2 separate regions of the Homo sapiens genome follow, and region 2 is linked to region 1. Evidence: fine-mapped expression QTL. A gene starts in region 1. The other region holds a variant in brackets. All regions are shown on one strand. Distances are between the middles of the regions.

What was found.
Region 2: its variant is fine-mapped to the expression of GAPVD1 in subcutaneous fat (GTEx, PIP 0.94).

The regions. Positions count from the first base shown.
Region 1 is chr9:125,256,019-125,266,084 of GRCh38, reverse strand. It overlaps GAPVD1 (GTPase activating protein and VPS9 domains 1), which reads right to left and starts at 4,259. Exons shown (of 28, transcript NM_001282680.3): 1 at 4,126-4,259. HSPA5-DT (HSPA5 divergent transcript) reads right to left here. Exons shown (of 3, transcript NR_186826.1): 3 at 9,014-9,121. It also overlaps the pseudogene RPS10P17. RefSeq lists silencers at 4,113-4,242, 4,181-4,362, 7,686-7,944.
Region 2 is chr9:125,383,312-125,393,377 of GRCh38, reverse strand. No RefSeq gene overlaps it. Among named protein-coding and RNA genes, the nearest start is that of GAPVD1, 130 kb to the right of the region's middle. RefSeq lists an enhancer at 2,625-3,364. The variant G/C (reference allele first, on the strand shown) is at 5,523.

The DNA of each region.
Region 1 (10,066 bases):
CCTTATAGACGTGAAATTATAGAGTACGCCTATCTTCAACTTTACTAAGGGCTGCAAATACTGTCTTCAAAAGCAGCTATACCAGTTTACACTCAACCAACAGTTTTTTTTTCCTCCTCCTAACAGTAACCGGTAGCAGTTTCTTTTTTTTTTTTTTTTTATAAATTTTTTCTTTTTTAATAGAGACAGGGGTCTCACTTTGAGGCCCAGGCTGGTCTTGAACTCCCGGGTTCAAGGACTCAAGTGGCCCTCAAACTCCAAAAGTGCTAAAATTATAGGCATGAGCTACCACGCCTGGCCAGTAGTTTCAAAATTACCATTTTTGCCACATCTTCACCAACATTTGATATCGTCAGACATGAAATTTTTTTTTTGGCCGGGCGCGGTGGCTCACACTTGTAATCCCAGCACTATGGGAGGCCGAGGTGGGCAGATCACGAGGTCAGGAGTTCAAGACCAGCCTGGCCAATATGGTGAAACCCCGTCTCTACAAAAAAATACAAAAATTAGCCAGCCATCGTGGCACCCGCCTGTAGTCCCAGCCCAGGAGGGAGACTGAGGCAGGAGAATCGCTGGAACCCGGGAGGCAGAGGTTTCAGTGAGCCAAGATTACACCACTGCACTCCAGCCTGGGAGACAAGTAAGACTCCCTCTCAGAAAGAAGAACAGAAAAAGAAACAATGCCAGGTGTGGTGGTGCCGACCTATAGTCCTAGCTACTTGGTAAGGCTGAGGCAGGAGGATCACTCAAGTCCAGGAGTTCAAGTCCAGCCTGGGCAATGCAGCAAGACCTTGTTTCAAAAAAAAAGAAGGAAGAAGAAAGAAGGAAGAAGAATGAAGAGAAATAAAACAACCTAGGATCACACAGTAAAAGGTAAAAGAACCTCAGCAAAACAAGAACTTCACTTACAGACTTTCCCTTTTATTACCTCATACAAAATGATGAATAATCAAACCTATATGGCAGCATGTACTAAGAATGATTAGTCCCCATATGAAACCAAATGCTCACAAAAGCACAACATAGTGCTGGGAAATAATTTTTTGTCTTTTAAAAAATGTAAGATGGCCAGGCGCGGTGGCTCACGCCAATAATCCTAGCACTCTGGGGGGCCAAGGCGGGCAGATCACTTAAGGTCAGGAGGTTCGAGGCCAGCCTGACCAACATGGTGAAACCCCGTTTCTACTAAAAATACAAAAATTAGCCAGGCATGGTGGCAGCACCTGTAGTCCCAGCTACCTGGGAGGCTGAGGCAGGAGAATGGCATGAACCCGGTAGGCAGAGCTTGCAGTGAGCTGAGATCGCGCCACTGCACTCCAGCCTGGGCGACAGCCTGAGACTCCATCTCAGAAAAAAAAAAAAAAAATCCACCTCCATGATTTAAAGAAAACCAGCAAACAGTAAAATTTCTTTTCTCAGGCTTACATTAGAGCTTACAGAGCTGCAATCCCTTGGAAGTGGGGAGGTGCCTTAATACAAAAATTTAAAGGCCAACATATTCACTTTTCTTTCTTCTTCCGATTATTTTGTTCATTCCCCATTACCCTGAATGAAATATCTATGGTCTATTCTTTCAAAATGACTACTCTGGGCAGGACGCGGTGGCTCACATCAGTAATCCCAGCACTTTGGGAGTCCGAGGCAGGCAGATCACCTGAGGTCAGGACTTTGAGACCAGCCTGACCAACATGGTGAAACCTTGCCTCTACTAAAAATATAAAAATTATCCAGGCGTGGTGGCTGGTGTCTGTAGTCCCAGCTACTCAGGAAGCTGAGGCACAAGAATCGCTTGAACCCAGGAAGCTGAGGTCGCAGTGAGCGGAGATCATGCCACTGCACTCCAGCCTAGGCAACAGAGCCAGACTCCGTCTCAAAACAAAACAAAACAAAAGACTACCCTGATCCCATCCAAATTTTTTATCTCCCTGATTATGAAATTCTCTTTCGTCTACACTGTCATCCTGTCTGCCTTCAATGATTCAAATGTTCTTCTAAAGAACCAGATTGCCATTTATGAACTCCTTTTTAAGGAGGGAGTCATGGTGGCCAAGAAGGATGTCCACATGCCTAAGCACCCAGAGCTGGCAGACAAGAACGTGCCCAACCTTCATGTCATGAAGGCCATGCAGTCTCTCAAGTCTCAAGGCTACATGAAGGAACAGTTTGCCTGGAGACATTTCTACTGGTACCTTACCAATGAGGGTATCCAGTATCTCCGGGATTACCTTCATCTGCCCCCCGGAGACTGTACCTGCTACCCTACGCCATAGCTGTCCAGAGACCGGCAGGCCTCAGCCTAAAGGTCTGGAGGGTGAGTGACCTGCGAGACTCACAAGAGGGGAAGCTGACAGACATACCTACAGATGGAGTGCTGACAGACATACCTACAGATGGAGTGCTGTGCCACTTAGTGCCGACAAGAAAGCTGAGGCTGGGGCTGGGTCAGCAGCCAAATTCCAGTTGAGACGGATTTGGTCGTGGACGTGGTCAGCCACCTCAGTAAAATTGGAGAGGATTCTTTTGCATTGAATAAACTTACAACCAAAAAAAAAAAAACAACAGTTCTTCTAAGTAGACTTATAAATCCAAAAAACCTTATTTCTATTTCAGGAGTTTTTTTGTTTTGTTTTGTTTTTTGAGACGGAGTCTCGCTCTGTTGCCAGGCTGGAGTGCAGTGGCGTGATCTTGGCTCACTGCAATATCCACCTCCCGGGCTCAAGTGATTCTCTTGCCTCAGCCTCCCAAGTAGCTGGGATTACAGGCATGGGCCACCACACCCAACTAATTTTTGTATTTTTAGTAGAGATGGGGTTTCACCATGTTGGCCAGGATGGTCTCGATCTCTTGACCTCAATGATCCGCCCGCCTCGGCCTCCCAAATTATTTCAGGAGTTCTTAATCTTTTTGTGCACGGACCTCATTGGCAGTTTGGTGAAGCCTATGGTCCCTTTCTCAGATTTCTTTTAAGTGCATAATTAAATACATGTGATTACAAGGGAAACCAATTATATGGAAATATTAGCAAAACAACAAACTAATATGGTCATAATATATGTACAGCCTTATTATCACATTAAATAACAATGTCTAACGGCGGGTCTAGTAACACCAGAAATTCAAAGAAGTGTTAACCATAAATGATATTCTGAGCTATCTGCAACTGTAAACATGATGCAAAAATATCCGTAATTTTTATTGATCACAAAGTCATAGGCGCTGCTAATGCTACTCTGGCTTGTTGTCCACATTCGTAACTGAAGGAAATAATAAGTTTCAGTTAGCAGTCAATAAAAATAATGATGTCATTTTATCCTCCTTCTAGTGAAAGGACCCTTCTAATTCTATCCATCAATGAACTCCAGTTTAAAACCCCTCTCTAGTTCAAAGTCCTGCTCAGAACTGATTTTCGTCATAAATTTAAAAATAAAAACACTGATTCCTCCTTTGACCTAGTTCTCATCTGAACCTATCACTATGTCTCCCTGTTTTTATGCACATTTATACACAGAACCCTGGGTGTACTTCTGTGGTTTGCCTAGCCAGCACTCACTACAATTTTGCCAGTCAATAAAAGGTGAAGTTAAAAGAAAAGGGATGGAAACAACCAACAGCTCCCTCACTTTCAGACCTCCGACAGCAAGTGGAAAGATGCCAAGTACAGTGAGTGTCTGTGTTAGGTGGGCTGCCCCCAGACCCGTGTGTCCAGCTTGTCAAGCTTCCCTGCAGCACGATATCTTTATCAGCGACACTCAGAAGACATTCCATTTCGTTCTCGCCTCCTATACTCAGTTCCCTACCTGCCGGGCCTCTCGTCTCTGGCCCCCACCCGAGGCCGCCCCGCGGTCCTCCTGTCCCTTCCCATCCCATCCCCCACGCGTCTCTCCCTCTCCTCAGCCCCAGGCCGCCCTGGCTCCTGCGCGCCGCCACATCTCTCCCCTGGGTCTAACCCAGTGTCCCCCGACCCCCACCTCGCCCGACACTGACGGGAAGAGCCCAGGACCCCGGGGTCAGTTGGACCTGACGGCCGGGCAGTCAGAGACAGGCTGCGGCCCTAGGCCGGAGCAACCCGGCCGCGAGGCAGGGAGCCGCTCACAGCCCGCGGACTAAATCGGGACGCGTACTCACCAAGGGGGTCATGCGGGGGAGGACACGGAGGACTCTGTCGGACCGCCACTCGGCCTCGGAGCCGTCGCCCTAGCCGGTGACTGCCCCCGCCGCCGCTGCCGCCACCTTCGCCACTCGCCTGTTGGCTTCCCTGCGTCCTGCAGCGGCGCTGCCGCCACGCCAGCGCGCGTGCGCAGCGCCGCGGGGGCCTCTGGGAGCTGTAGTTCCGCCCGGGCGGCTAGGGGCTCCCACTTCCGCCTTAGGCAGCCCTAGGTCAGCTGCCCCCTGAGGCTGTCGTGGGTGTCCGGGTCCGGAATCGTCTTCCGGAAGGCTGTTCACCAGGCCTGGGCCCTGGTTTCCGCCTGCAGTAATGCTGGACGTGAAGAATCCGACTGAGCAAGTATGTGTAAAGCAAAAATGTAGAGCGTTTTATGCTTTCTGTGACAACGCTCAGTTGCCCAGGACACATTATTCGCATGAATGACTCTCTCTCTTCTCTGTTTCTCTCTCACACGTACGCACACACTACTTACAAACCTCCCTTCCCTTTTTTTTTTTTTTTCGAGACGGAGTCTGGCTCTGTCGCCCAGGCTGGAGTGCAGTGGCTCAATCTCGGCTCACTGCAAGCTCCGCCTCCCGGGTTCACGCCATTCTCCCGCCTCAGCCTCCCAAGTAGCTGGAACTACAAGCGCCCGCCACCACGCCCGGCTAATTTTTTGATTTTTAGTAGAGACGAGGTTTCACCGTGTTAGCCAGGATGGTCTCGATCTCCTGACCTCGTGATCCGCCCGCCTCGGCCTCCCAAAGTGCTGGGATTACAGGCGTGAGCCACCGCTGCCGGCCCCTCCCTTCCCTTTTGTTCTAAGTGCCATTAATTGGTTTGGATGGTATCTGGATTTTCAGTGTAAAACCTGCCTTCCCACTTCTCAGTTTCTAAAATCTTGCTTATCATAAACTTCACCATGCAGTTATTTTAGGTAAGTCAATAAATGAACTGTCTAATAATTTTTGTAACACCATAACTCATATATTCAGAGGTCAAGTTAGCTGAGTTGAACAGTCTAGAAACCTTAAAATTGGAAGATACCTGCTTAAAGGTCACTAGTGCAACTGTTGCCCAGGCAGGAATTCCCTCCTGTACATTCAGCCAGATGGTCATCTTCCTGTTCAACAGTTCAAATTTCAGGGAGCTCACTCCCTCAAGTAATGCAGCCTGCTCCACTGTTGGACAGCTCTAAATGTTAGAAAGTTCTGCCTCCTGCTGAGCTGAAATCTGTTTCCCTTTATTTCCTTCCATTGCTGGTAGTTAGGCTGCCTGGAGCAATACAGAATGTCTTCCACTTGACAGATCTTCAAAAAATTGAGAACAATGATTATATCCTCCAATACTGGGAGTCTCCAGGCAAAAAAAGGAAAAAAGTAATAATCATTTCCCCAGCTATTTCAAATGTCAATCAACTCCCAAACTGCTTTCTATCTACTCACCTCTCTTGATGTCACCTTTAGGGGCATGGTGGCATATGCCTATAATCCTAGCACTTTGCGAGGCCAAGGCAGGAGGATTGCTTGAGCCCAGAAGTTCAAGACCAGCCTGAGCAACATAGTGAAACCCCAACTCTACAAAAAATACAAAAATCAGCGAGGCATGGTGGCTTGCACCTGTAGTCCCAGCTACTAGGGAGGCTGAAGTGGGAGGATCACCAAGCCCAAAAAGGTCAAGGCTGCAGTGAGCTGTGATCATGCCACTGAACTCCATCCTGGGCAGCAGAGTGAAACCTGTCTCAAAACAAAACAGCAACAACAACATTGACAGAATTGCTTCATATTTATTGCCTTGTTTTATGACTACATAGGTAGTAATAGAACCACCTATGGTAGGCTGGTCAGATGTTATTGCTATCGTGCTGCCATTCAACTCATTCAGGAATTCAATCAGCTCTGTTACAAGACATTACTCAATGCACCGCTGGCATGAAATAAGCAAGAGGAGGCCGGGCGCAGTGGCTCACGCCTGTAATCCCAGCACTTTGGGAGGCCGAGGTGGGCGGATCATGAGGTCAGGAGATCGAGACCATCCTGGCTAACACGGTAGAAACCTGTCTCTACTAAAAATACAAAAAATTAGCCGGGCATGGTGGCAGGCGCCTGTAGTCCCAGCTACACGGGAGGCTGAGGCAGGAGAATGGCGTGAACCCGGGAGACGGAGCTTGCAGTGAGTGGAGATCGTGCCACTGCACTCCAGCCTGGGCGACAGAGCGAGACTCTGTCTCAAGAAAAAAAAAAAAAGAAAAGAAATAAGCAAGAGGATACAATTTACAATCTAGGGTAGGATGAAACTGCCACAGATTAAGGATCATCATAATAAGCCAAGGTACAAAGCATTCTGAGATTCTCAGAGAGAATGGCCTTTTCAAGTTGAGGGTTCATGACCTTATGGAAGAGGTGACAGTTAGGAGTTACTGGATGGCTGGATTTCAAGACAAGAGATGGCATTCGTGGACTGCTAAGGAAGAACTCAGCCTTAGCAAAACCACATTCACAGTGGGCTCTGGAACACTGCGTCTGGGTAGGCTGGAGCACCCAGGCCAGGGAGGAAGGGAAGGAGAGGCCCCAAAAGTTGCAAAAGAATCTTCAGGGAAGCTGCATTGCATGTGAGAAGTAAAAAAGGAACTAGAATGGTCAGTTAATCTTCTGAGCCCTGTTCTGTCACCTACAAATGAAGAACTTGAACTAACAAGCAATTTTCTTTTTTTTTTCCAGTCAGCACACTCAAGGAATTCAAATCTCCTGCTAGAACTATGGATCACTACAACAGTGATTCTTGGGAAATATGGAATAGGTATTATTTTCATCCCTTTTACAAATGGGAAAGTAAACTCAAGAGGTGAAAATTTGCTCAAAATCAATAAGTAGTACTCACTGAGGGCAGATCACTGTCTCCCTAGAACCTGGCATACTGCCTAGAATGTAATGTTTGTTTTTTGTTTTTTAAATGAATGGATGAATACACAGTAAACTCTGTCCAAAGCCCCTTTCTTTCCATACACAACTCAGTCTTCCCTGACATAGAAGGATATGAAGTTACTTGTTCATGGTCACAAAATTCATACTGGACCTTGTGTAGAGTTTAGTTCTTCAGCCTCCCAACTCCATACTCTATTAAACTACTCTGCCTTAGAATCGCAAAACATTTTTTTTAATGTTCTTTTTCCTTCTATGTGTACACAGCCAGTCTTAGAAGTAAGCCAAGAAAGCAGATGCTATGGCCAAGTGATTTAAGGGGCCTCTGGCAAGTATTTCTGGACAAAAAAACACTTTATCCCCAGGTCCCTCAAAGGCCCCCAAACTTCATCACTTATATTGAATCACAAATGTTAACTTGAGGTGAAAATTTAAACCAACACATAGTCCCTGAGGGCGCAGACTCCATCTTATTCACCACTGGGCGTACTGCCTAGAATGTAATAATTTGTCTACATTTTTATTTTAGAAATAGGTCTTGCTATGTTGCCCAGGCTAGAATGCAGTAACTATTCACAGGTGCTATCGTGAGGGCTCAAGGGATCCTCATGCCTCAGCTTCCTGAGTACCTGGGACCACAGGCTTGCACCGCTGTGCTGGGCTCGCCTGTTTGTTTTTTGTTTTGTTTTGTTTTGTTTTGTTTGAGATGGAGTCTCACTCTGTTGCCCAGGCTGGAGTGCAGTGGAATGATCTCAACTCACTGCAACCTCCACCTCCTGGGATCAAGCAGTTCTCATGCCTAATCCTCAGCTGGGATTACAGGTGCACGCCACCATGCCTGGCTAATTTTTCTTTTTCTTTTTCTTTTTTGAGACAGAGTTTCGCTCTTATTGCCCAGGCTGGAGTACAATGGCACGATCTCGGCTTACCACAACCTCCGCCTCCCAGGTTCAAGCAATTCTCATGCCTCAGCCTCCCGAACAGCTGGGATTACAGTTCGGGCCACCATGCCCGGCTAATTTTTTTTTTTTTTTTTATGGAGTTTCGCTCTTGTTGCCCAGGCTGGAGTGCCATGGCGCGATATCAGCTCACCATAACCTCCGCCTCCCAGGTTCAAGTGATTCTCCTGCCTCAACCTCCAGAGTAGCTGAGACTACAAGCGCACGCCACCATCCCTGGCTAATTTTTGTATTTTTAGTTCAGACAGGGTTTCACTATGTTGGCCAGGCTGGTCTTGAACTCCTGACCTCGTGATCTGCCCGCCTCGGCCTCCCAAAGTGCTGGGATTACAGGTGTGAGCTACTGCGCCAGCAAATTTTGTATTTTTAGTAGAGACGGGGTTTCTCCATGTTGGTCAGGCTGGTCTCGAACTCCCAACCTCAGGTGATCTGCCCACCTCAGCCTCCCAAAGTGCTGGAATTACAGGTGTGAGCCATCCATCAAGACCAAAAAGTAACATTGTTTAAGTTACAATACATCTACACTTAAGAAAGAAATATGAGAGTTAAGTGAGACCAAACCATACCAGAAAGAAAAACAGGCCATAAGAAATAAAGATTACAGAGAAAGAGGAAGACAAAAGGGAAGAAACAAGGACTTCACCTATGACATGATTTTATTTCAGCAGTCCCTAACCTTTTTGGCACCAGGGACTGGTTTTGTGGAAGACAGTTTTTCCAGGAAATGGTGGTAGGGGGTGGAGGAGGTCGGGGGGATGGTTTCGGGATGAAATTGTTACACCTCAGATAATTAGGCATTAGATTCCCATAAGGAGTGGACAACCTAGACCCCTTGCATACGCAGTTCACAATAGGGTTCGCACTCCTATGATAATCTAATGCCATTGCTGATCTGACAGGAGGCAGAGCTCAGGTGGTAATGCTCACTTACCCACCACTCACTTCATCCTGTGCTGCTCCATTCCTAACAAGCCACAGACGGGTACCAGTTCACGGCTCTGGGGTTGGAGACCCCGATTTATTTGGCACACAGTTTGGAAAGGAAAATGCTGTGAAATAGTAGTACACGCTTGACTGTGGAAAGATTAGGGCCACATCTGGAAGAGTCAAGCAAATTATAAACTAGGCAGTAAGTAAATACAGCAATAACATGAATAGAAATCATAATTTTACCATTAAAAAACTCTAAAATAGTTTTCATCGTTTATTTACTTTTTGAGACAGGATCTCGCTCTTTCACCCAGGCTAAAGCTCAGTGACACCATCACTGCTTACTGCAGCCTCAACCTCCCTGGCTCAAGCCATCCTCCCACTTCAGCCTCCAGAGTACCTGGAACTTCACACATGCGAAGTCCCTTCACTGTGCCTGGCTAATTTTTTTATTTTTTATACAGACAAGATCTCACTGTGTTGCCCAGGCTGGTCTCAAACTCCTGGACTCAAGTAATCTTCCTGCCTCGTCCTCCTAAAGTGCTGGGATTACAGGCAGGAACCACCACACCCAGCTTTTTTTTTTTTTTTTTAATTCTGAGACAGGGTCTCTCTCTGTCACCCAGGCTAGAGTGCAGTGATGTAATCACAGCCCACTGCAACCTCTACTTTCTGGGCAGGGCTCAAGCAATCCTCCTGCCTCAGCCTCCTGAGTACCTGGGATCATATGCACGCACCACCATGCCTGGCTAACTTTTTTATTTTTTGTAGAGATGAGGTTTTGCTGTGTTTCCCAGGTTAGAGCTCTAGGAATCCTGCAAGCAAAAAAATCCAGTAAGACCCAGGTGGTAGAAAGTATTCCTTAAAAAAATACTTTTCACTTTGGAGCAATTAATTTGTTCCCGTCATAGCCACAGTCCATGTTCTGGGTCATTGGTGGTCCTACACTGGCCCCCACTGGCAGGCTCAGAAATAATAATACTGAGATCCATGAAGCTGATGGAGCTTATGATTTAGGGCCCCTCACTTGCCTGGAGACTCTTCAAAGATCCTAGCAATGTATTCACAGTCATATGGCTTTGCAACATTTAGCAAGGAGTTAAAATTATCAG
Region 2 (10,066 bases), 130 kb before region 1:
TCGGTGCTGCATATTCAAGATTTTGGTCTGGGTGTGGTGGCTCACACCTGAAATCGCAACACTTTGGGATGCCAAGGTGAGAGGATCGCTTGAGCCCAGGAGTTTAAGACCAGCCTGGGCAACATAGGGAGACCCTGTCTCTACCAAAAAAAAAAAAAAAAGAAAAAAAATTAATTAGCCAGGCATGGTGGCACACACCTATAGTCCCAGCTATTCAGGAGGCTGAGGTGGGAGAATCACTTGAACTCAGGAAGTCAAGGCTGCAGTGAGCTGTGATCATGGCACTGCACTCCAGCCTGGGTGAGAGAGCAAGGCCCTATCTCAAAAAATAAAAATAAAAAAAGAAAAAGATTTTGATACATGCTGCTCAAATTACTCTCAAACATTTTCTTTTTATTTATTTTTTTTTTTTTGAGACAGAGTTTTGCTGTTGTTGCACAGGCTGGAGTGCAACGGCACGATCTCGGCTCACCGCAACCTCCGCCTCCTGGGTTCAAGCGATTCTCCTGCCTCAGCCTCCTGAGTAGCTGGGATTACAGGCATGTGCCACCACGCCCGGCTAATTTTGTATTTTTAGTAGAGACGGGGTTTCTCCATGTTGATCAGGCTGGTCTCGGACTCCTGACCTCAGGCGATCCACCCACCTCAGCCTCCCAAAGTGGTGGGATTACAGGCATGAGCCACTCTGCCTGCCTCTCAAATATTTTCATAATGATTATATATGCATGTGCACTGTGTGTGTGTATTTTTTTTAAAAAACAAATACTGATACAGGGCATACTATGTTCTGGGCACGGCTCTATGTTCTTTACAAATATTTATTTAACCTTCACAACAACCCTATGAGGTAGGTATTATTGTTATTATCCCCATTTTACAAATGGGGAAACTGAGGCCAAGAGAGGTTAAGTCACTTGTCCAAGATCCACCACTAGTAAGTGGTAGAGCTGGGATTTGAGCCCAGGCACCATGGCGCCAGAGTCTGCCTTCATGACCACCATATCCTACTGCTTATGAGAGTGAGGCCTGGGGCCTGGGACAGCTGCCCTCTTCCCTTTCAGGAAAAGTAAGAGTATTCGAGGGCCAGGCACGGTGACTCACGCCTGTAATCCCAGCACTTTGGGAGGCCGAGGCAAGTGAATCACCTGAGGTCAGGGGTTCGAGACCAGCCTGGCCAACATGGCGAAACCCCATCTCTACTAAGAATACAAAAATTAGCCAAGCATGGTTGTGGGCGCCTGTAATCCCAGCTACTTGGGAGGCTGAGGCAGGAGAATCACTTGAACCTGGGAGGCGGAGGTTGCGGTGAGCTGAGATTGCACCACTGCACTCCAGCCTGGGGGACAGAGTAAGACTCTCTCAAAAAAAAAAAAAAAAAAAAAGGATTCGCAGCAATGGCTGCCATTGTGAGCACAGAGCATGCCTGGGGGTGAGAGCTTCATAAAGGCAATAAGCAAAGGAATGACTCGCTGGAGGCTTCTCCCTGATTTCCTTTATTCGTACTCAGACTCCTGGCTTCCTTTGTTTATCGGGTCCTGGTATCAGATCCAGCTGAGGATGAGTTCTGGCCCTGCCACCAGTAGTCTGTGCCCTTCTCTGAGCCTTTGTTCCTTCATCTGGAAAGTGGAGATAATAACAGGGCTCACATCTAAGGTCATGAGGATGACATGTATGAGAATAAAATAAGTGGAAGCACAATTTCAGTCATTTACTCAAGAATGTCCAGAGCCCTGACTGTGTACCCTTTACTCTTCTAATCCCATTGTTGGTCATCTTGGCAACTTCCAATTGTTTGCCCTCATAAACACCACCAACCTCACCACTATATGAACATCCTTGTGCACATTTTTTTTTTTTTTTTGCATTTGCCAAATTATTTCTAGGGGTAAATTTCTAGTTGTGGAATTGCTGGGTCAAAAGGGAGGGTAATTTTTTTTTTTTTTTTTTTTTGAGATGGAGTCTTGCTCTATCACCCAGGCTGGAGGGAGGGTAATCTTTTTCTCTTTTTAGATGGAGTTTCACTTTTTTTACCAGGCTGGAATGCAATGGCATGATCTTGGCTCACTGCAACCTCCGCCTCCCAGGTTCAAGCAATTCTCCTGCGTCAGCCTCCCCAGTAGCTGGGATTACAGGCATGTCCAACCACGCCTGGCTAATTTTGTATTTTTAGTAGAGACAGGGTTTCTCCATGTTGGTCAGGCTGGTCTCGAACTCCCGACCTCAGGTGATCTACCCGCCTTGGCCTCCCAAAGTGCTGGGATTACAGGTGTGAGCCACTGCGCCCAGCCTATTTTTTTTTTTTTTTGAAACAGAGTCTCTCTGTGTCGCTGAGGCTGAAGTACAGTGGCATGATCTCAGCTCACTGTAACCTCCATCTTCCGGGTTCAAGTAATTCTCCTGTCTCAGCCTCCCTAGTAGCTGGGAATACAGGCATGTGCCACCACACCCAGCTAATTTTTGTTTGTTTGTTTGTTTGTTTGCTTAGTAGAGACTAGGTTTCATCATGTTGGCCAGGCTGGTCTTGAACTCCTGGTCTCAGGTGACTCGTCCACCTCCGCCTTCCAAAGTGCTGGGATTATAGGCATAAGCCACAGCGCCTGGCCGATTTATTATCTTTTTGAGACGGAGTCTTGCTCTGTCTTCCAGGCTGGAGTGCAATGGCTTGATCTCGGCTCACTGCAACCTCTGCCACCCGGGTTCAAGAAATTCTCCCACCTTAGCCTCCCAAGTAGCTGGGACTACAGGTGCGCGCACCCCATGCCTGACTAATTTTTGTATTTTTAGTAGAGTTGGGGTTTCACCATGTTGGCCAGGCTGGTTTTGAGCTCCTGACCTCAGGTAATCTGCCTGCCTCGGCCTCCCAAAGTGCTGGGATTACAGGCATGAGCCACCACGTCTACCCTAAGTGACATTTTAAAATAACTAAAGGAGTATAATTGGATTGTTTGTAACACAAAGGATAAATGCCTGAGGGGATGGATACCCCATTTACCCTGCTGTGATTAGTACTCATTGCATGCATCTGTTAAAATATCTCGTGTGCCCCAGAAATATTTAATATATACACCTACACTACACCCCCAAAAATTAAAAATTAAAAAATGAAAAGGAACAATTTAAAAAATAAAATAAAATGCACTGACTTGATGAAAAATAAAATACAATTTAAATATTAGCCACGCATGGTGGCATGCACCTGTAGTCCCAGCTACTTGGGTGGGAGGATTGCTTGAGCCTGGGAGGTGGAGGCTACAGTGACCTGTGATCATGCCACTGCACTCCAGCTTGAGCAACAGTAGGAGACCCCATCTAAAAAAAAAATGAAAGAAAGAAAGGCCACACGTGCAGCCTCAGGCCCGCTAGCAGGATCTAGGAAGGCAGGGCATGGAGACTTCTCTTTCCTCTCCTGCCATGGGTACAAGATGGGGACCTGCTGATGGCCACCATTCTCACTGGCCATTTCTAAACTGGGTTTGTCACACGAAAACTGTTCCCAGGCAGAGCCAAGGAAATCCCTAAATCAATAATGATCTGGGCTGGGCACGGTGGCTCACGCCTGTAATCCCAGCACTTTGGGAGGCCGAGGCAGGCTGATCACTTGAGGTCAGGAGTTCAAGACCAGCACGGCCAGCATGGCGAAACCCCCGCTCTACTAAACACACACAAAAAATTAGCTGAGCATGATGGCGCGTGCCTGTAATCCCAGCTACTCGGAAGGCTGGGGCCGGAGAATCCCTTGAACCCAGGAGGCAGAGGTTGCAGTGAGCTGAGATCGCGCCACTGCACTCCAGCCTGGGTGACAGAGCAAGACTCTGTCTCAAAAAAAAGAAAAGAGAAAAAAGGAATGATCTGGAAGGAGAGTTTGGCCCTGAGAGGCACCCCCAACCTTTCCCTTCTCAGCTCTGCGTGGCTGCACTTTCCTCTCCTCTCCAGACCCCCAGCACGCACAGTGTAAGACCCCCACCTAGAGTCCAGCCAGGCCACAGGGACCGTCCCAGGACACTGGGCCATGAGTGGCAAGTTGGGGAGCACAGGGGGGCCCTGACCAAGGCAGAGAGTCAAGAAAGGCTGCTCTGAGGAGGAGCAGGTAGGGTGGGAGGACAGAGGGGCAGCACGTGGAAGGCTAGGAGGTGAGAGAGGGGCAGTCACGTGGAGGAGGCTGGACCACCTCCCGAGGGCCACGGGGGACCATGGAGGATTTACAGGCAGGCCCTGCCGCCTGTGGAGAATGGACCAGAGGGGCTGAGCCTGGAGCAGAGTGGACTTGGGACCTAGGTTTCTGCTTATATCTCTTGGTTACACATTCTGTTCTGGTAGTAGCATGCCACTACTACTTGGCTAATTTTTGTATTTTTAGTAGACACGTGGTTTCACCATGTTGGCCAGGCTGGTCTCAAAGTCCTGACCTCAGGTGATCCACCCACCTCCGCCTCCCAAAGTGCTAGGATTACAGATGTGAGCCACTGTGCCCAGCCCCAACATCTAAATTTTGCAGGGACACATATATTGAAGCACCCTCTGTCTGGCATGCACCTGCCCCACCACAGGGGTCCACCTGTTCCAGCCTCCCCATGCCACCTGCTGCAGGAAGTCCTCCGCAAGTCACTGGCCAGTAGTGGCCTCACCTGCCCTGCGCTTCCAGCCTGGTCTCTCACTGGGTTTGTCTGAGGCCCTGAACACATTCATCCAGGCATGTCCCAGCTGTTGGGGGCTCGGCTTATCTCCACCTTCCTCCCGCGGCCCCAGCCTTTAGCCAAATGCCCTGCAGAGAATAAGTACAGGCCACAACTCTGGCAGCAGCAAACCTCCTCCCTGACTTTTCTGTGTTCGTTGCGCCCAGCCCAGGGCCTGGCACCAAGCAGGCATCATCCCGTCCTCCATTCACCCGTCCATTTGCCAAACACACATTGAGCGCTGCTCTGTTCCAAGCTTGTGCTAATGGCTGGTCACACCCATGTTGAATAGAATAGACCCACCCCAGCATCTTAGTCAGCTGGGGAGGAGGTGCTGGGAGGGGCGAAGGCCTGGGAGGATCCTGACCCAGCCTGCAGATTGGCGGGAGGGAGACGTCAATGGGGCCAAGCCAACCTGGTGAGGCTGAGAGGCGAGTTTCCCAGAAGGCCTCCCTCTGTGCTTCCTGCATAGGAGCTTTTGAAATTGGAAGGGAAGCAGTGACCTTTGCTCTCTGAAGGTCACAGGAGGCAGCCATGGTGACAGGCAGACCCAGTGGCCTGGGGGGCTCCAGCTTGTCCTCGCCGTTCTCCACCCTGCGCTTGGTCTTCCTGACTGCTGGCCTGCTGACCAGCAGTGGCCCCAGGCCCACCCCAGAGGCTCCCCAAAGAACTCACAGAGGCAGCAGCTACACAGAGGCAATAGCTCCCAGGGGACCCTCCAGGAGCGTCCCCCACATCCCTTCTGGCAGCCAGACACACCTGGCTTCTCAGATCGCTGGGAGGTGTCAGCTCTGACCCCCCGTGTCCCCTCTGGGCCTTCACCTCCAGCTCCTCCCATAATCGTGTCAG[G/C]CCATCCCCATAATGAATCTGCATCCCATAATACCCGCAGTGGCTTTGCTTCCCTGATTGAACCCCGAGTGATACAGTGGTTGGTACTGGTGATGCTTCCAGGAGAAGAGAATCTTAAGGATGGGAACTCAGCATCAGTTCTCCAATCTCAGTGGATTTAGAGGTGTTCAGATCCTGCTGCCGGGGACTACACTGGGGCTCCATGGCACACAGTAGTGGAGCAGTTACATAACCCCTGGACCCAAGGCCCACAGAGGGCTCGGGTGACCAAGTCACTACTGGCATCAAATGTGTGGGTGGAAATAAAGGGCACAGGGACTGTGGGGTCACTTGGTTGCCTCTAAGTGCACTGGAAAACTAATGAGAAAAAGAGATGAGCTCAGGGCTTTGAATTCCCAGATCAAGGTTTTTGTTTTTTTGTTTTGTTTTGTTTTGTGTTTGTTTGTTTGTTTGTTTGTTTTGAAAGGGAGTCTTGCTCTCTCGCCCAGGCTGGAGTGCAGTGGTGCGATCTCGGCTCACCACAACCTCCGCCTCCCGGGCTCAAGCAGTTCTCCTCTCTCAGCCTCCCAAGTAGCTGGGACTACAGGTGCATGCTACCACGCCCGGGTAATTTTTGTATTTTTAGTAGAGATGGGGTTTCACCATGTTGGCCAGGCTGGCATCGAACTCCTGACCTCAGGTGATCCACCCACCTCAGCCTCCCAAAGTGCTGGGATTACAGGCATGAGCTACTGTGCTCAGCTCCCAGATCCAGTTCTGAGTGAAGAGCCAGACGTTGTCCCTGTGCCTGGAGACCCTTCAGTGCCCTGAGACCCTTTAGTGCCCCCTCCTGAGGTGGCCTCCACCTCCCATTGCCTCATCACAGGCGCGGGTTCATTATTGCTGGAGTGGGTTTCTTTTTTTTTTTTTTTTTTTTTTTTTGAGACAGAGTCTTTATCTGTCACCCAGGCTGGAGTGCAGTGGCGTGATCTCGGCTCACAGCAACCTCTGCCTCCCAGGTTCAAACAATTCTCCTGCCTCAGCCTCCCAAGTAGCTGGGATTACAGGTGTCTAACACCATGCCTGGCTAATTTTTGTAGGTTTAGTAGAGACGGGGTTTCACCATGTTGGCCAGGCTGTTCTTAAACTCTTGACCTCAGGTGATCCACCCACCTTGGCCTCCAAAAGTGCTGGGATTACAGGCATGAGCCACCATGCCTGGCCTGGAGTGGGTTTCTTATAAAAGGGTAAGTTTCCATCCTGGCTAACACAATGAAACCCCGTCTCTACTAAAAATACAAAAAATTAGCTGGGCGTGGTGGCGGGCACCTGTAGTCCCAGCTACTCAGGAGGCTGAGGCAGGAGAGTGGCGTGAACCCGGGAGGTGGAGCTTGCAGTGAGCCGAGATTGGGCCACTGCATTCCAGCCTGGGTGACAGAGCGAGACTCCGTCTCAAAAAATAATAATAATAAAAGAAGAAAGGATAAGTTTGGCTCCTTTTGCTCTCTCTTGCCCTCTCTGCACTTCTGCCATGGGATGACACAGCCAGAAGGCCCTTGCCAGATGCTGGTCCTTTGATCTTGGATTTCCCAGCCTCCAGAACCATGTGCCAATAAATTTCTGTTCTTTATAAATTACCCAGTCTATGGCATTCTGTTATAGCAGCAGAAAATGGACTCAAACAGCAGCTAAAAATTTTAACAACTTGCTAAATGTGGAGTGCGAGCTACTGTGAAGTATAGAATCTCCAGGAGCTGCAGACACAAGGAGAATTTTTACCCACTCTCAGGTTCTTCTCTAGGTACATCACCAGGTGCTCATAAGAAAGGTTGGGGCAGGGCAAGAGGTCTGAGAAAGCCTCCTGCAGTCCCTGCAAGAAAGCACGAAGCTCCACTCACTGTCTCTATTTCCATTCTCTCCTTTATGGGACAAAAGACTTAAGCAGTGGGGTCAAGGTGGGAAAAGCCCTCAAGGCACAGAGGAAGACCCACTGCAGGTGAGGGAATCAAACAGAAAAACCCTCTTAATTTTAGGGGAAGGGCAGAAATACATCCTGGGCTCAGACTATTAGATCTCATCTGCTACTGGGGGAGGAGAAGGAGCTCTGAGACCCAGCTCCTGCCTAAAACTGGAGCTGACCCAGAATAATGGAGAATGCCATTCCAGCTCGCCAACATCCCCGCAAAAAAAAAAAAAAAAAAAAAAAACATAAAAAAGGCTTAAAATCACTAATAACAAGTTACAGTTGTGGGTCTACTGCTGGGGGAAAGGCAAGAATGCAGGGAGAGATGCTCTCTTGGGAGCAAATGCAAAGAGAAGACCTAAAACTGAGGGTAGGCTGGGTGCGGTGGCTCACTCTTGTAATTCCAGCACTTTGGGAGGCCGAGATCAGGAGTTCGAGACCAGCCTAGCCAACATGGTGAAACCCCGTCTCCACTAAAAATACAAAACATTAGCCAGACGTGGTGGCACGTGCCTGTAATCCCAGCTACTCAGGAGGCTGAGGCAGGAGAATTGCTTGAACCCAGGAGGCAGAGGTTGCAGTGAGCCGAGATCACGCCACTGTACTCCAGCCTGGGTGACAGAGCGAGACTCCATCTCAAAAAGAAAAAAAAAAAAAAAAACTGAGAGTGGATCGGACATTGGGAAAAAACCTTCTAGCAAGTCAGGCCCCACTCTAAACACTTAGTGATATTAGAGGAATGTCAAGCAATCTGAGAAAGAAAAATGGGCAAAAGATTTGAATAGGCTGGGTGTGGTGGCTCACACCTGCCATCCCAGCACTTTGGGAGGCTGGAGGATCACTTGAGACCAAGAGGTCAAGATCCTGTCTCAAAAAAGAAAAAAAAAAAAAAGATTTGACTAATACATTACATCAAAGAAGATACATGTATGGTAAATAAGCACATGAGGAGATGCTCGATGTTGTTAGTTAAGCAAAGTGATGCTAGAGAACTGTGGGGCCCTGAGGGCAACAGAGCAACACCAAACCCCAAAGCCAGCTTAACTCCTGGCTAGACTGACCAGCTCCCTACCTGAAGGGCCTGGCAAAAGCAGCAGCATTAACCAGGCACAGGGGCTCACACCTGTTGTTTTTTGGTGTTTTTTTTTTTTTTGACAGTCCTGCTCTGTCGCCCAGGCTGGAGTACAGTGGCGCAATCTCAGCTTACTGCAACCTCCGCCTCCCAGGTTCAAGCGATTCTCCTGCCTCAGCCACCCAAGTAGCTGGGATTACAGCCGCCCGCCACCATGCCCAGCTAATTTTTGTATTTTCAGCAGAGATGGGGTTTCACCATGTGATGGCCCCATCTCTATGCCATGCAGCTGTGTTTTGGGAGGCTGAGGTAGAAGGACCACCTGAGGCCAGGAGTTCAAGACCAGCCTGGGCAACATAGCAAGACCCTGTCTCTACAAAATATAAATAAATTAGCCAGGCACGTGGAATATGCCTGTAGTTCCAGCTACTCAGGAGGCTGAGGCAGCAGATTACTTGAGCTCAGGAGTTCAAGGCTGCAGTGAGCTGTGATTGTACCACTGCACTTCAGCCTGGGCAACAGAGCAAAACACTGCTTAAAAAAAAAATAGAAGAAGTAAGCCCATTTTCAGGTGTAAATGCTATTTACCTCAGTCTCTACTATCCTATACAAGATCCCAGCTTTCAATCAAAAAAATACGAGACACACAAAGAAGCAAGAAAAGCAACACACCGTCAAGGGATAAAGCAATCAACAAAATCAGACTGAGATATGACCCAGATGTTGGAACTTTTAGGGAATTTTAATAATTATGATTAATATGTTAAAGGCAATGGGAGAAAAGGTGAGTAGCATGTACCCACAGTTGGGGAATTTCATTAAAGAGATGGAAACTATAGGAAAGAATAAATAAAATGCTAGAAATGAAAGTCACAGTAAAAGAGAATGATGTTGACAGGCTCATCAAAAGACTCAGCATAGCTGGGGAAGTAATCAGTGAACCTAGGCCACGAGCAGTGGCTTATGCCTGTAATCCCAGCACTTTAGGAGGCTGAGGTAGGAGGATTGCTACAGGCCGGGAGCTTGAGACCAGCCTGGGCAACATCGTGAGACCCTGTATCTATACAAAACAATTTTTAAAAATTAGCCGGGCATGGTGGTGCATGTCTGTAGTCCTGGCTACTTGGGAGGCCAAGGCCATAGGATCATTGGGGCCCAAGAGTTTGAGACCACAGAGAGCTATGATTGTGCCCCTGCATTCCAGCTTAGGTGACAGAGTGAGACCCTGTCTCTAAGGAAAAAAAAGAAGAAAAAAATAGGGGAGGGAAAAAAACACAGAAACAGAACAGAGCATCCTAAAGTTAGGAGACAATATAAAACAGTCTTAAAAAATATATGTAATTAGAATCCCAGAAGAAGAAAAGGATCAGATGGATGGAAGAAATATTTAAATTTAAAACGCCAGGCCAGGAGCAGTGGCTCATGCCTGTAATCCTAGCACTGTAGGAGGCTGAGATGTGAGGGTCGCTTGAGGCCAGGACATTGAGACCAGCCTGGTCAACATAGCGAGACCCCATCTCTATATTAATA